4 linked regions of the Homo sapiens genome follow. The protein of the gene in region 2 interacts with the protein of the main gene of each other region in a pairwise test. Each region holds a gene or a part of one and is shown on either strand. Other genes may lie near its edges.

Evidence for each region. Proteins that work in one complex are often made in the same cells at the same time.
Region 1: the proteins of HTR6 (region 2) and CMSS1 interact in a two-hybrid assay, tested with the Homo sapiens proteins (one large-scale study listed by BioGRID and IntAct).
Region 3: the proteins of HTR6 (region 2) and SYT5 interact in a two-hybrid assay, tested with the Homo sapiens proteins (one large-scale study listed by BioGRID and IntAct).
Region 4: the proteins of HTR6 (region 2) and PARP8 interact in a two-hybrid assay, tested with the Homo sapiens proteins (one large-scale study listed by BioGRID and IntAct).

The regions. Positions count from the first base shown.
Region 1 is NC_000003.12:99,820,862-99,824,361, forward strand, and holds part of CMSS1 (protein CMSS1), read left to right. Parts: intron 1-2,882; exon of another isoform or gene 2,883-3,004; intron 3,005-3,500.
Region 2 is NC_000001.11:19,671,375-19,674,874, reverse strand, and holds part of HTR6 (5-hydroxytryptamine receptor 6), read right to left. Parts: intron 1-3,500. UniProt on the Homo sapiens protein: G-protein coupled receptor for 5-hydroxytryptamine (serotonin), a biogenic hormone that functions as a neurotransmitter, a hormone and a mitogen. Also has a high affinity for tricyclic psychotropic drugs.
Region 3 is NC_000019.10:55,170,696-55,173,992, forward strand, and holds the end of SYT5 (synaptotagmin-5), read right to left. Parts: intron 2,990-3,297; coding exon 2,789-2,989; 3' UTR 501-2,788; downstream 1-500. UniProt on the Homo sapiens protein: May be involved in Ca(2+)-dependent exocytosis of secretory vesicles through Ca(2+) and phospholipid binding to the C2 domain or may serve as Ca(2+) sensors in the process of vesicular trafficking and exocytosis.
Region 4 is NC_000005.10:50,792,137-50,795,636, forward strand, and holds part of PARP8 (protein mono-ADP-ribosyltransferase PARP8), read left to right. Parts: intron 1-2,070; coding exon 2,071-2,196; intron 2,197-2,716; coding exon 2,717-3,281; intron 3,282-3,500. UniProt on the Homo sapiens protein: Mono-ADP-ribosyltransferase that mediates mono-ADP-ribosylation of target proteins.

The sequences.
Region 1 (3,500 bases), on a different chromosome or scaffold from region 2:
ATATGTTAAATCAGAGAAAGGAAAGATAGTTGTATTGGTGCTTTTATTCCTGTTGTGGATTATGCTACCTGCCTATAAAAATAAACATTTTTGCTATAATCTGTTCCCACTTGACATCCATGGTAGCAAGGCAGTGGAAGATTTCAGTCACTTACAAATACTTGTTGGTTGTACATGGTTTATAACATCTATCTAATGTGCCTATCTGTTTGTTGTCTGTCTAAGGAACTGTACTATTTTTTGGCTGTTATCATGTCTTCTTAGATGTGGTATGTAACAAAGTTTTCATGGCTCTTTAAAACCTGTCATTTTTGTGCTAGAGTTCTACATTGCACTGGAGCTCAACATGGGACCTGGCACTTAATTGGTGTTTGGTGGATGTTGGCAGAATAAATATATGTGTGTATGCGTGTTACCTGCTACAGAGTATGTAGGCAGACATATAATTTCTCATCCAATCTAGACACTTTTGTGAGTGGAAGGCTATGCAATTAGAATTTTGCAGGGACTCTCCTGGTCCTTAAGGGATGTCTAGTCACTCCATTGGTGGCAATTGGAGTCATGGCCCAACATAAGACAGCTGGGAGTTACAGTGCTGAGTGTGCAGCCCAGGATGCCTTAGGCATAAGACCCCAGGAATCATCTAATGGCATCTAATATTTGATTTATTTCCTTATTCCCTGTAAACCTTCAGCAACTGTTTGAAGTGACTTATAGTAAGTAATACATTCAGTAGAATAATGATGTGAAAATATTAATGCTGAAATGAGCAAACACAATGCCTGAGATTTTAATGTAGTTGACCGGTCTGGGTACTTTCTCAGTGTGAAGCTGAAAACTGAGAGAATGTCAATCACAGCATGGATTTCGTGACTTAAGGAAGAGAGCCAAGGGATTCTGCAGTTGAAAATGTCACTTGAGGGCCTGTAATCCCAGCACTTTGGGAGGCCAAGGTGGGCAGATCACCTGAGTCCAGGAGTTTGAGACCAGCCTGGCCAACATGGAGAAAACCTGTCTCTACTAAAAAGACAAAAATTAGCCAGGTGTGGTAGCAGGCACTTGTAGTCCCAGCTACTCAGGAGGCTGAGGCAGGAGTATTGCTTGAACCCAGGAGGTGGAGCTTGCGACGAGCCAAGATCGCACCACTGCACTCCAGCCTGTGCTACAGACTGAGACTCTGTCTCAAAAAAAAGAAAAAAGAAAATGTTACTTGATCATTTACTCACTGAAGATGAAGAGAATACTAATTGCTTTCCCTTTTTATTTCAATGACATACCTATTAAATTACCAAGTCGAGTACCCAGTAGGCAGCTAAGTATGTGAGTCTGGAGCCCCAGGGCCAGATCCAGGCTGAGATACAGATTTAGGAATAACTGGCATACAGATAGGTTATTTTTAAAGAGCATGTTCTTAGCAGTCTGTAACATTGAGCCTCCATGTCTTTTAAGGAGGGTCTTTCATATGCCTCCCCAACTCATTCTGAATCTTTGATGACATCTCTTCCCAAGCACCTAACTAGAAAACTGAAGTGTTAAGACACTGCTATGTACAGTGCCAGGAGACTGCAGGTAATAATACCAGCTTGCGGCCAGGCGCAGTGGCTCACGCCTGTAGTCCCTACACTTTGGGAGGCTGAGGCAGGTGGATCACCTGAGGTCAGGAGTTTGAGAACAGCCTGGCCAATGTGATGAAACCCTGTCTCTACTAAAACTACAAAAAATTAGCTGGGCGTGGTGGCACGCACCTGTAATCCCAGCTACTCAGGAGACTGAGGCAGGAGAATTGCTTGAACCCAGGAGGCGGGGGTTGCAGTGAGCCGAGGTCGTGCCACTGCACTCCAGCCTGGGCAATAAGAACAAAACTCCATCTCAAAATAATAATGATAATAATAATAATAGTAATAATACCAGCTTGCATTTGTTGAGCACTTAACTACCTGCCAGATGCTGTTTTGATTGCTTTACATGTTCTAGTTAATTTAATCTTCCCAAGTACACCAGCGGTAGTTACTGTTGTTATCTTTATTTTACTGATGAGGAAGTTGAGACACTGAGAAATTAAGTGATTTACTTAATACTATTTAATTTAATTCACCCAATACTATCTATTTAATTGGTAAATAGGGGAGCTGTGATTCATATGCAGGCAGTCTGAAACCAGAGCCTGTGTGCTTATATTTCGCATTCTCATTATCAGTGGTAAGAATCTCATCTCTAAAGGAATAATCTGTTATCGGCTTAAAGAGACTCATAATTTAGAAAGTCTTTTGTTTATATATCATTATGAAATTGTGTCTATTAGTTTTCCAAAGTTTACTCTTTTAAAGAACACTGGTTACTTGGAGCTACAAATAAGCAGCTTTTCCATTTGGGCTTTGAGAACCATTTCTGCCAGTAACTCAAACCTGATCCTGGAGCTCAAAGCTTAACATATGTGGCTGCCTTCTTTAAATCTTTACTTAGTTATTTAATAGGGATGTCAAATGTAAACAAGACCCAGCTACTGAATTATTCTCCAAACCTGCTTTTTCTCCAAACTTTCCTGTCTCCATAAATTAAACCACCAACTACCCAATTTCACAAAGGCCTAGCAGTATTCTGATTTATTTATTTTTTTCACCCCTATATCTCATCCATCAAGTCCTGTTGTCACTACCTCGAAAACATATCCTGATTCTTTCTTTGCATTTTTCTTCGCTCTGCCTCCATTGGAGTATACATTTTCATCCTTACTGCCATAAGCTTCTAACAGGGCTCAGAGTTTCCACCTTGTCCCTCACTCACCAGCTAGAGGCCTTTTGAAAAGAAGTCAGGCCACTTTCCTGCTTAAATCTTCCAATAGCTTTTTCCCTGGCACATAGAATGAAATTCAGATTACTTACCATGGCTGGTGGCCACCAGGTCTTCTACTATTTACTCCCCTATAGTTTATGCTGCCCCACCCACACCAGCCTTCATTCTGTTCCTCAGTAGGCCACACTCATTCTGTCTTACTTAGCCGTTTGTGTTAGCTGTTCTTTTCCTTTCTGTCCTGTCCTTCTGATTGGCTGGCTTTCTTTCTTTCTTTTTTTTTTTTTTTGAGCTGGAGTCTCGCCCTGTCACCCAGGCTAGAGTGCAGTGGTGCGATCTCAGCTCACTGCATCCTCCACCTCCTGAGTTCAAATGATTCTCCTGTCTCAGCCTTCTGAGTAGCTGGGATTACAGGCGCCTGCCACCACACCCAGCTAACTTTTGTATATTTAGCAGAGACGGGATTTCACCATGTTGACCAGGCTGATCTCGAACTCCTGAGCTCTTGATCCGCCCGCCTCAGCCTCCCAAAACACTGGGATTACAGGCATGAGCCACCAGGCCCGGCCAGCTGGCTCTGTCTTAACATTAAGTACTCAGTTCAAACGTCACCTACTCAGAGTGGCGCTTCCTGATCAGGCAGTCTAGAGTAACTATCTAGGTGCTCTATTACATTATCACAATATCTATTAAATTATTATGTTATTATA
Region 2 (3,500 bases):
GAAGGACAATCCAGGGCCCTTCCAGCCAACAATCACACATACAGCTTCCAGCCAACACCTACATTCATGTCTGCACGCTTCACATATCCAAGAATGTGTCCCACAGCACTACTTGTGATAGGAAAAAATTGGAAACAGCCTTAATGTCCATCAAAAGAAGAGTGGTTTAGGCTGGGCACAGTGGCTCACGCCTATAATCTCAGCCCTTTGGGAGGCCAAGGTGGGCAGATCACTTGAGGTCAGTAGTTCGAGACCAGCCTGGCCAACATGGCAAAACCCTGTCTCTGCTAAAAATAAAAAAATTAGCCAGGTGTGGTGGTGCATGCCTGTAGTCCCACTACTCAGGAGGCTGAGGCAGGAGAATCACTTGAACCCAGGAGGTGGAGGCTGCAGTGAGCCGAGATCACACCACCACACTCCAGCCTGGGTGACAGAGTGAGAGTTTGTCTCAAAAAAAAAAAAAAAAAAGAGAAGAGTGGCTTAAATAAACCACGGTGAATTCCCACTACAGAATACTACACAGATGTTTTAAAAGAATGAATCAATCAAATGAAAAGATCTCCATGATTATTAAATTATAATAGCAGGTTGCAAAGTAATAGATACAGCATGATCCTATTTGTTTAAAAAACAATATCCAACACAAAGCACCAAGTTTCTTTAAGTACCTGTATAAATACATAAGCACATAGAAAATGACCCGGAAGGGCTAGGTGCAGTGGCTCACACCTGTAATCCCAGCACTTTGGGAGGCCGAGGCAGGTGGATTGCTTGAGTCCAGGAGTTCAAGACCAGCCTGGGCAGCATGGTGAAACCCCATCTCTACAAAAAATACAAAAATTAGCCAGGCATGGTGATGTGCGTCTGTAGCCCCAGCTACTCCGGAGGTTGACGTGGGAGGATCACCTGAGTCAGAAGAGGTCAAGGCTGCAGTGAGCCGTGGTTGTACCACTGCACTCCAGCCTGGGTGACAGAGTGACACTCTGTCCTAACAGAAAAAAAAAAAAAAAAAAAGACCTAGAAGGACATATCCTAAATTGATGCATGTCCCTGGGAGTGAAAGGTGATTAGCTGGAATTTGGAGGTCTTTTCCTTCATCCCTATTGTTGAATTTTTAAAGTGTATTTATGTATTCCTTTGTGCAATTAATTTTATTTATTTATTTATTTATTTTTTGAGACGAAGTCTCGCTCTTGTTGCCCAGGCTGGAGTGCAATGGCGCGATCTCGGCTCACCACAACCTCTGCCTCCCGGGTTCAAGCGATTCTCCTGCCTCAGCCTCCCAAGTAGCTGGGACTACAGGTGTGCACCACCATGCCCATCTAATTTTGTACCTTAGTAGAGATGGGGTTTCTCCATGTTAGTCTCAAACTCCCGATCTCAGGTGATCCACCCACCTCGGCCTCCCAAAGTGCTGGGATTACAGGCGTGAGCCACCACGCCCAGCCCACAATTAAATTTTGTTACCATCATCTGATCATAGTGTGAGAGTTACAAGACAGACTCTGGAGCCAGACTGCCTGGTTTCAAATCCTGGCTCTGTTACAAACTAGTGGAGTGACCTTAAGCAAGTTACTTCATCTATGCTTCCACTTTCTGTTCTGTAAAATGGCACTAAAATAGCATCTACCTCATAGGATTATAATAAGGATAAAATAAAATAATACACTGAAAGTTAGAACAGTGCCAGCACATAGGAAGTCCCATAGAAGTGTTAGCTATTGTTGTCATTATTATTAGTCTCTGGCTCAGCTGTTTGATAATGATGGTGATGGTGCTGGTGACAGCAGTGATGTTTTTCCCTAGAAAGGGTCAAGGTGGTGAGCTCCCCAGAAACATATTTTACCAACAACAGGAAAAGAGAGGCACGAACAACTATTGTTGTTGTTTTAAAGATGGGGTCTTGCTCTGTTGCCTGGGCTCAAGCAATCCTCTCACCTCAGCCTCTTCGAATAGCTGTAACTAAAGGTATGTGCCACCAGGCCTGGCTAATTTTTTATATATATTTTTAGAGACAGGAGCTCGCTATGTTGCCCAGGCTGGTCTCGAACTCCTAGCTTCAAAGAATCCTCCTGCCTTGGCCTCCCAAAGTGTTGGGATTACAGTTGTGAGTCACTGCCTAGCTGAAATTTGTTGAGCACTTACTATGTGCCTGGTATTTTATGTATATTATCTAATTGACTCTTCAAACAGACTTGTGTGATAGATGTCATGACCCCTGGAGCATAAGGAGGTAAAATGCCTTGCCCAAGATCGTCCAGCTATGAGGCAAAAGAGGCAGGGCTTGAACCCTAACCAGCCAGACCCCCAAGCTCCTGCTCCAGCCCTGGCTGCACCAGGCTGCCTGGCTCTGAGCAGCAGCCAAGCCTGCCATGCTCGGCAGTGTCACTCTGCCAGCCTCTCCCTGGCTCGGCCCCCTCCTCCCCCTCACAGATATTTCTGTGATCACAGCCTCCTCCTCTGAGGAGGAGGAAAGACAGAGATGGAAGGGAAGATGGATCACTAAGACAGAATGACGCTTAGTTGGGTGAGAGAGGGTGAAAAAAGGAGGGGGAGGAGGAAAAGCGGGAGAAATTGATGGGACAGGAGAAGGGGGAGGGGAAGACGGGGCACACAGAAGGAAGACATGGGAACTGAAGGAGAGAAGGATGGATGGGAGTGGGGAGGAAGGTGAGGTGTAGAGATGGGATGAGGTTATGGACCACAGAGACCCAGAAATCCTGCCAGGAAGAGGAGGAGGCTGGGCCTCTCCTGCTGGGCTCTCCCTCAAGCCAGTGGCCCATGCTGCATCTCTGAAACTGCCCCTAACACCCTGGACCCTCCACAATCTCCCAAGGATGGCTCAGTGCCACCCACATCCAGGCCCCCACCTTCCACCCTGCTCCCAACACACACACTCCCCTGCCCTGGTAGCTCCTCACTCTGCCCCACGGCTCTTCCTCCATCCCCAGCCCACACTCCCAGCCACAGTGCTAAGCAGGACCCCTTCCTCCCAGCCCTGAGGTGGTGGGAAGACCTAGTGGAAATCACTAAGCCAACCAGTGGCCTTTTAAAAGCCCATTTCCATAAATAGACATATGGAGAGGGGATGAAATGCTCAAGGCTGACCAGCTCCCATGTTCTGACCCCAGAGGAACTGGGGCCTCGAGACCTATGCCCAGCTCCTTTCCCTCTGCAGGGAAGCTAGAGAGTGGAATGGGGCAGGAAGCCAAGGCTAAGTGGGGCTGGGCACAGGAAAAGGGAAGGGGTCCAAGACACCCACATCTGATTCATTCTCATCACTTCCTTTAGGTCCAAACATTGAGGGGGCCTCCACCTCCAGGCCAGCTCTGGTGGGAAGAAAGAGGCGGTGACCCAGGAGGGCCAATGCAATTTCTCAGATGCATTTTCCCAAAGTGCAGGCCGTTCACCAGGCAATCAGGAAAACGGCCTGCAGGAGGCTTACTTAAGGAGCCGAGTGGATTTGAAAGCAGGAACAGAGGCAGAATTTGCACACGTCA
Region 3 (3,297 bases), on a different chromosome or scaffold from region 2:
CAGTGTGGACGGCCATTTGTAATGGTTTTATTCTTCTATCGCTCTGCTTTCTTGTTGAGACAGAGACCCAAGGACCCCATTGCCATCATCTAAATCAATCCCAGGATTTAGAGACAGGCTCTCTGGCTGTGTGATTCTGAGCATTTCACAGGAATTCTCTCTCTCTCTCTCTCTCTCTTTTTTTAGATGGAGTTTTGCTCTTGTTGTCCAGGCTGGAGTGCAATGGCGCGATCTCGACTCACTGCAACCTCCACCTCCTGGGTTCAAGCGAGTCTCCTGCCTCAGCCTCCCTAGTAGCTGGGATTACAGGTGCTTGCCACGACACCCAGTTAATTTTTGTATTTTTAGTAGAGACAGGGTTTCAGCATGTTGGCCCAGCTGGTCTTGAATTCCTGACCATAGGTGATCCGCCCACCTCAGCCTCCCAAAGTGCTGGGATTACAGGCGTGAGCCACTACGCCCAGCCCCAAATTTTCTAAAGCACAGTTTGGACTCATTTGTCAACTGGGAATAATGATCATGTTTATTTCATGAGTTTGCTGTGAGGATTATTATTGGCAGTAATAGTAGTAACATAAAGGGCTGTCTTCATAAAGACATGCTCTACAGCCACACACACACACACACACACACACACACACACACACACACTCACACACATGAAAAGTTACTGAATTCCTTTGGAGAAAAATTAAAAATCTCATGGATATTATAATCTGTGTAGCTGTTCTATTTTCACTTTCCCGATTGGCTACCAGGAAGCTTAGGAGCAAGTAAGTTTGTTTGCTGCCTCCTTTTTTGGTACGTGGGGGTAATTTTTGCCTCATTCTCCACTTAATCTGCTGCTCAGAGAGTTCTCTGGCCAAATCTTATAGGTCTTTGTTCACCACCCAAAATTCTGTATGGGATGAGATAAGGTAGAAGCCAATGGAACTATCATCTTTGCTAGAAACAGAGTAGGAGGCAGCATTCGTTGAAAGAACAATGAGGTCAGATGCGGCGGCTCATGTCTACAGTCCCAGCTACTCACACAGGAGGATTGCAGGAGTTTGAAACCAGCCTGTGCAACATAGCAAGACCCCATCTCTAAAAAAGAAAAGAAAAGAAAAGAAAAAATTAGCTAGGCATGGTTGCATGTGCCTGTGGTCCCAGCTACTCAGGAGTCTGAGGCAGGAGGATCCCCTGAGCCCAGGAGGTTGAGGCTGCAGTGAGCTATGATTGCCCCACCGCACTCCAGCCAGGGTACACAGAGAAACCCTGTCAAAAAAAGAAGAAAGAAGAGGCTGAGGCAGAAGAATCGCTTGAACCCGGGAGGCAGGGGTTGCGGTGAGCCGAGATTGCACCATTGCCCTCCATTCTGGGCAACAACAGCGAAACTCCGTCTCAAAATTAAAAAAAAGAAGAAGAGAAGAAAAGAAATAGAAAAGAAAAGAAAAGAAGAAGGGCCGGGCGCGGTGGCTCACGCCTGTAATCCTAGCACATTGGGAGGCCGAGGCGGGCGGATCACGAGGTCAGGAGATCGAGATCATCCTGGCTAACACGGTGAAATGCCGTCTCTACTAAAAATACAAAAAAATTAGCCGGGTGTGGTGGCGGGCGCCTGTAGTCCCAGCTGCTCGGGAGGCTGAGGCAGGAGAATGGCGTGAACCCGGGAGGAGGAGCTTGCAGTGAGCCGAAATCGTGCCACTGCACTCCAGCCTGGGCGACAAAGTGAGACTTCATCTCAAAAAAACAAAAACAAAAACAAAAAAACAAACAAACAAAAAAAAAACAAGAGAAAAAGAAAGAAAAGGAAAGACAGAAAGAAAACAAAAAGGAAAAAAGAAAAGAAAAAAGAAAGAGGTGAAGTTGAAATCATTGGCTTTCCTTGCTGAACTCCAACCTCTCTCGCAGGCTCTGGAGATTGTATTCCCTGGCTCCGCGCCTCTCCTTTGTTTTGATGGCAGTAAGTCGCTTGGGGGGTCAGGTCTGTGTTTGGATATTCTGGGGCCCCAGCACTCAACAGAAGACCTCAGGGAATATGGAATGGAAGGAAGAAAAAAAAGAGAGGGAGGGAGGGATGCAGAAATGGGTATGAAAATCGATGTGAGTCATGGGTGAGCAAGCGAGTGGATAAATTCATGGACAAGCAAGGGAGTTCTCGCGGACTCCTCACAGCCAGCGTGTGGCAGGAATTATTATTATCCCAACATTCTCCAGAGGAGGAAACCCAGGCTCAGAGTGGTGAGTGAGGAATGAACGGGTGAGAGTGTGAGGGAGTCCATGGGGTCAGGCCAGTCTCTCAGAGGCTTTCAGGACGAACAGCACTCACACCGCCCTGCGAGCGCCCATTCCTGGAAACGAGGTTTCCTCTTGGGTCCCAGCCCTTGCCCACCCCCATCAAGGAGCATGGGCCCAGGCCACCGGAGCTGCTGAATATTTATTTGGCCCCAGGAGCAGTGCAGGGATGGGCTGTGTTGGAAGAGAGAGGAGAGCAGACGAGGATGGCTGATTGTCAAAGCAGGGGGCAGGACCCGGGGGCAGGAGAAACCAGGCTGCCTTCCCTTCCCGGGGTCCCTGGGGCATCTGGGTGTGTCCGCGAGGGTCGGGGGAGTGTGCTGGAAAGTTGTCGTGATTGGCATCGTTGGGGGTGAGAAGACAGGAATGGTTCAGATGGTTGGGGTGGAAGGTGGGGGGAGGGTAACCGTCAGAGGAAGCTTAAGGGTGGGGCTGGCTTGGCTTTGGCCGGTCTCGGGAGTCTGGGGTCAGGGGCTAGAGTCCAGGCTTGGCCGGGGGCTTGGGGTGGGAGTCAGGGCGCAGGCAGCAGCCTCACTCGGTCCGGGGGCCGCAGCGAGTGCCACTGGGCAATGGGCCGCCGCGGGTTGGCCAGCATGTCCGCCCAGTGCCGCAGGCCAGCCCCGCCGGCGGCCGCCCCCACGGCCACCCTCCCGATGGCCTCGTTCTTGCCCAGCTTGTCGTAGTCCAGCACGGTCAGCTCCACCTGCACCTTCTGGGGTGGGCGCGGGAGGAAGAGGAGAGAGGAGCGTGAGGGGAGGAGGCCCCGGAAGGGGCGGTGTCCGTTTTCACGGCTGAGGGTACCTCTCGCTGCCACCCGAGGGCTCGGGGCCCCGGAGCTCGGGACGGGGGAGGGGGTGGGAGACGAGAGGGACGGAGCCTGCGGCGAGGAGGAGGCTCTGGCGCCTTTCTTCCTGCGCAGCCAGGTTTCTAAGGAAATGAACCCTCAGGACTCGGTTGCGGAGCGGGTGTGTTCGGCGCCTCCTGGGGGAGCAGCCTCCTAAGAGCCGCAAAGCTGCAGAA
Region 4 (3,500 bases), on a different chromosome or scaffold from region 2:
TCTTTTTTTCCCTACCATCAGCCAATCACTGGCAATGGTAGTAGTTCCTTTTGGTGCCAGCACAATAGTAAACACAAACTCAAATGTAAATACTGAAGTCCCTTCATGGTTCTCTATTATAAGGAGGTGGTTGTTATACCAAATGTGTTCATATGTATACTCCAGATTACCCCTGAAATTAAACACAACATTGAATGTCTTTTAGAAAACAATTTCTTTTGCATCCAAGGACAACTAGGTACCTGGGTATTCAAGTTTAAGAATTACTGATTTTAGATGTTGAATCACACTTTGAATCCTAATGTAATATATAAGTGGGAAAATTTTTAGCCATTTTGACCTGTTTTTTTTTTTGTTCCTCTTAGCTTATCAAGATTAGGCAAGCACTTGCCGTCTTTCTTAAAGAATGGTGCACAGGAGTAGCAATTTTTTATGGGAAGAAAATCTGCTTAATACAAAGGGTTGTGTCAGTGGAAATTTCAAATTAGGTACAGGGAGAAATGATGATCTTATTATTACATTTAAATCCTGCTGAAATTTTGGGTAAAAAAAAATTCAAACATGAATAAAATGTTTCTCGTGCTGACTGAGCGAATTTACTGTGAATTTGGAATCATGGCATCACTTATTGAAGTTTTATTCCCCTTTTCTCACCACTTCCACTGCTAAAAGGGCCCCAAAATAATTGAGTATGTAACTGTTTATTCTTCTGAATTTATCAAAACTAGCAGAAAAAAGCCTAAGTGATATACTTTCTGGCGATCTGAGTTAGTTTGTTAAGACCTGAAGGATCCTGAGAACTTAGTAACTGGCGTTGTGCTAAGAGTCACATCTGTCCCTTTTGAATAGCATGTGTTATACATATCAAAACCCATATTTGATAATATACGTACTACTACTCTGTCACTTGTATCTATGCTAACTTGGGCAGATTTCGTTCTCTTATTTGTGAAATGTGTGGAATAACAGCTACTTGCTGCGGTACTCTGAAAATTAGAGGCAAAAATGTGCATATAACATTTCTGTTTTACTCTGTGACATATTGTAAGTGGGAAACAAATATTGGTATCATTTTCCTGATCCCAAAGCAATGTGTTAGAAATAACTGAAAAGAGCGTGAAAAACAGACAATCCTGAAGTTATTTTTGAAGAAAAAGAAACACATTTAATTTATTGCATGCTTGATGTTTAATTGTAAAATTTCATGTCTACTTAAGTATTAGTGTTGAGGGCCACTGCCATGTGGAAAATGGAGATACAGAGAAGCCATCCAAGCCAAAGACCTTTCCCAAATAAGAACACTGTGTCCAAGTCCACAGTTGGCATTCCAGAATTCTTTACCATAAAGCACTGATGGAGTGATTTTGACATAGAAAATATCGACATTAGGAGTTACCAACATTCTGCCTTATGATATTAACTAAACAAACTTAAGGATACCCAGTTTTTAAAATTTAGTATAGTATCTTCAAAGGTGAATAGGCTGTGTTGAAGATATAATTTGCTGACCACATATTTCTACGTAGAGCCAGTTCTGCGTGTTTTCTTTTTATGTATGATTTTATAGCTTTGCTTTCCTTTTCATGAAGAAGATATCGAAGCAAGTCAAGTAAAAAGAAAATGGCTTTACTTCTATCTTAATAAATAGCATTATAATTAGTAACAAAAATTTTCTTAAAAGTTGATTTTCTAGCACCAAAAAAAATTTAGATTTTTTTGCCACTTCAGCTCAAGTTGTTGATCCTGAAGGCCGTCTTTATAATTCTCTTTATATCTTTATTCTTCTATCATTTGAATTATCATATCCTGGTAATATTGTAATTTAATTATTTAAATAAATAGTAATCATTATCATTTACTGTGATATAACCAGTCACAGTAAAGCTCTGCTAATTTGCTATATGATGCTTTCCTACATATGAAAAATCTTGTATGATTCTAAATTAGCGTCTCACTGATTTCTATGTGTTTGCATTTATTTGATAAATGCATTTTCTACATAATAAATACAGTAACATTAATTGAAATTGCCTTGGAATGGTGATAACAGAATTACCTTTGGATTGACAGAATCATGCAGACATTTGTTACACAGCAGTGGAAACAGAGCAAAGAAAAATCCAATTGCCTGCACAATAAAAAGTTGTCAGAGAAGAAAGTGAAGTCTCCCCTGCATTTATTTTCTACTTTGCGCAGGTTGGTAACAGGCAACTTCGTCATTGTCTTACTGAATGCTGAGTGTGTGATGTAGTTCATGCTTACAGCATTCTTTCTATAGTGTTGGCATCTGTTTATTTTCTTTATAACCTCTAAGAAAAGACTGAGTTAGATGCATTCCATCAAAAACATATTCATTTCTATGTTTAGAGTTTTTATTAATATTTATTTAACATTGGTTACATTTGCTAAAATTACATTCTTTGCTTTCTAATCACCTAGAGTTTTTCCTACCAAAATTAGTTTCATTATAGGGCTTTGGGATAGATAGGAGGGAAAAAAAATCTTAGAACCTTTTTTTTGCTTTTCAGGAAAAATGGGATTCAAGTCCTGTGATCATTCTGCACATACCTTTGATTTCAGTTTTGACTGGGTAGGCTATATTAAAATGAGGTGGTAGAATATTTATTAGCACAGTCGAGTTTGAGCATGACAAGCTTTCTTCATGGTCTGATGTACCTGTGATTTGCCCTGTAGTAATTGTTGTTCAATTTTGAAGGTCGCCAAGTTATCCTCCCCCTGGTTGTGGCAAAAGCAAATCCAAACTGAAATCTGAGCAGGACGGAATCTCCAAAACGCATAAGCTGCTGCGGAGGACTTGTTCCAGCACAGTCAAGACTGATGATGTGTGTGTCACAAAGTCACACAGGACCTTTGGCCGCTCCTTGTCCAGCGATCCCAGGGCGGAGCAGGCTATGACAGCAATTAAATCGCACAAACTTTTGAACCGTCCTTGCCCTGCAGCTGTTAAGTCAGAGGAATGCCTAACTCTAAAGTCGCATAGACTATTGACTCGATCTTGTTCTGGAGATCCACGATGTGAGCACAACACAAACTTGAAGCCCCATAAACTGTTAAGCAGGTCTTACTCTAGTAATCTCAGAATGGAAGAATTATATGGACTGAAAAATCACAAATTGCTCAGCAAGTCCTACTCCAGTGCCCCCAAGTCATCCAAAACTGAGCTTTTCAAGGAACCTAACGCAGAGGGCAGGAGGCTCTCTCTTACCTCAGGGCTTATTGGTATCCTAACACCATCTTCATCTTCATCTTCTCAGCTTGCTGTGCGTAAATATTTTCATCTTGAGTTCTTAAATGTTAGCTAAGGTGCAGTAGAATTTTTTTTTTCTTATAAGATCTGGTGGAGAAAAGAAGCAAAACTTTGTTTTAATTTACTGTTTTTTTAAAATCTTTTTGGATATTGTTTTGCATCCCATACATTTGCAACTGGCAATGAAATGTAAGCTTTGGTTCTGAAAAAAAATAAATGTAGCTATTCATTT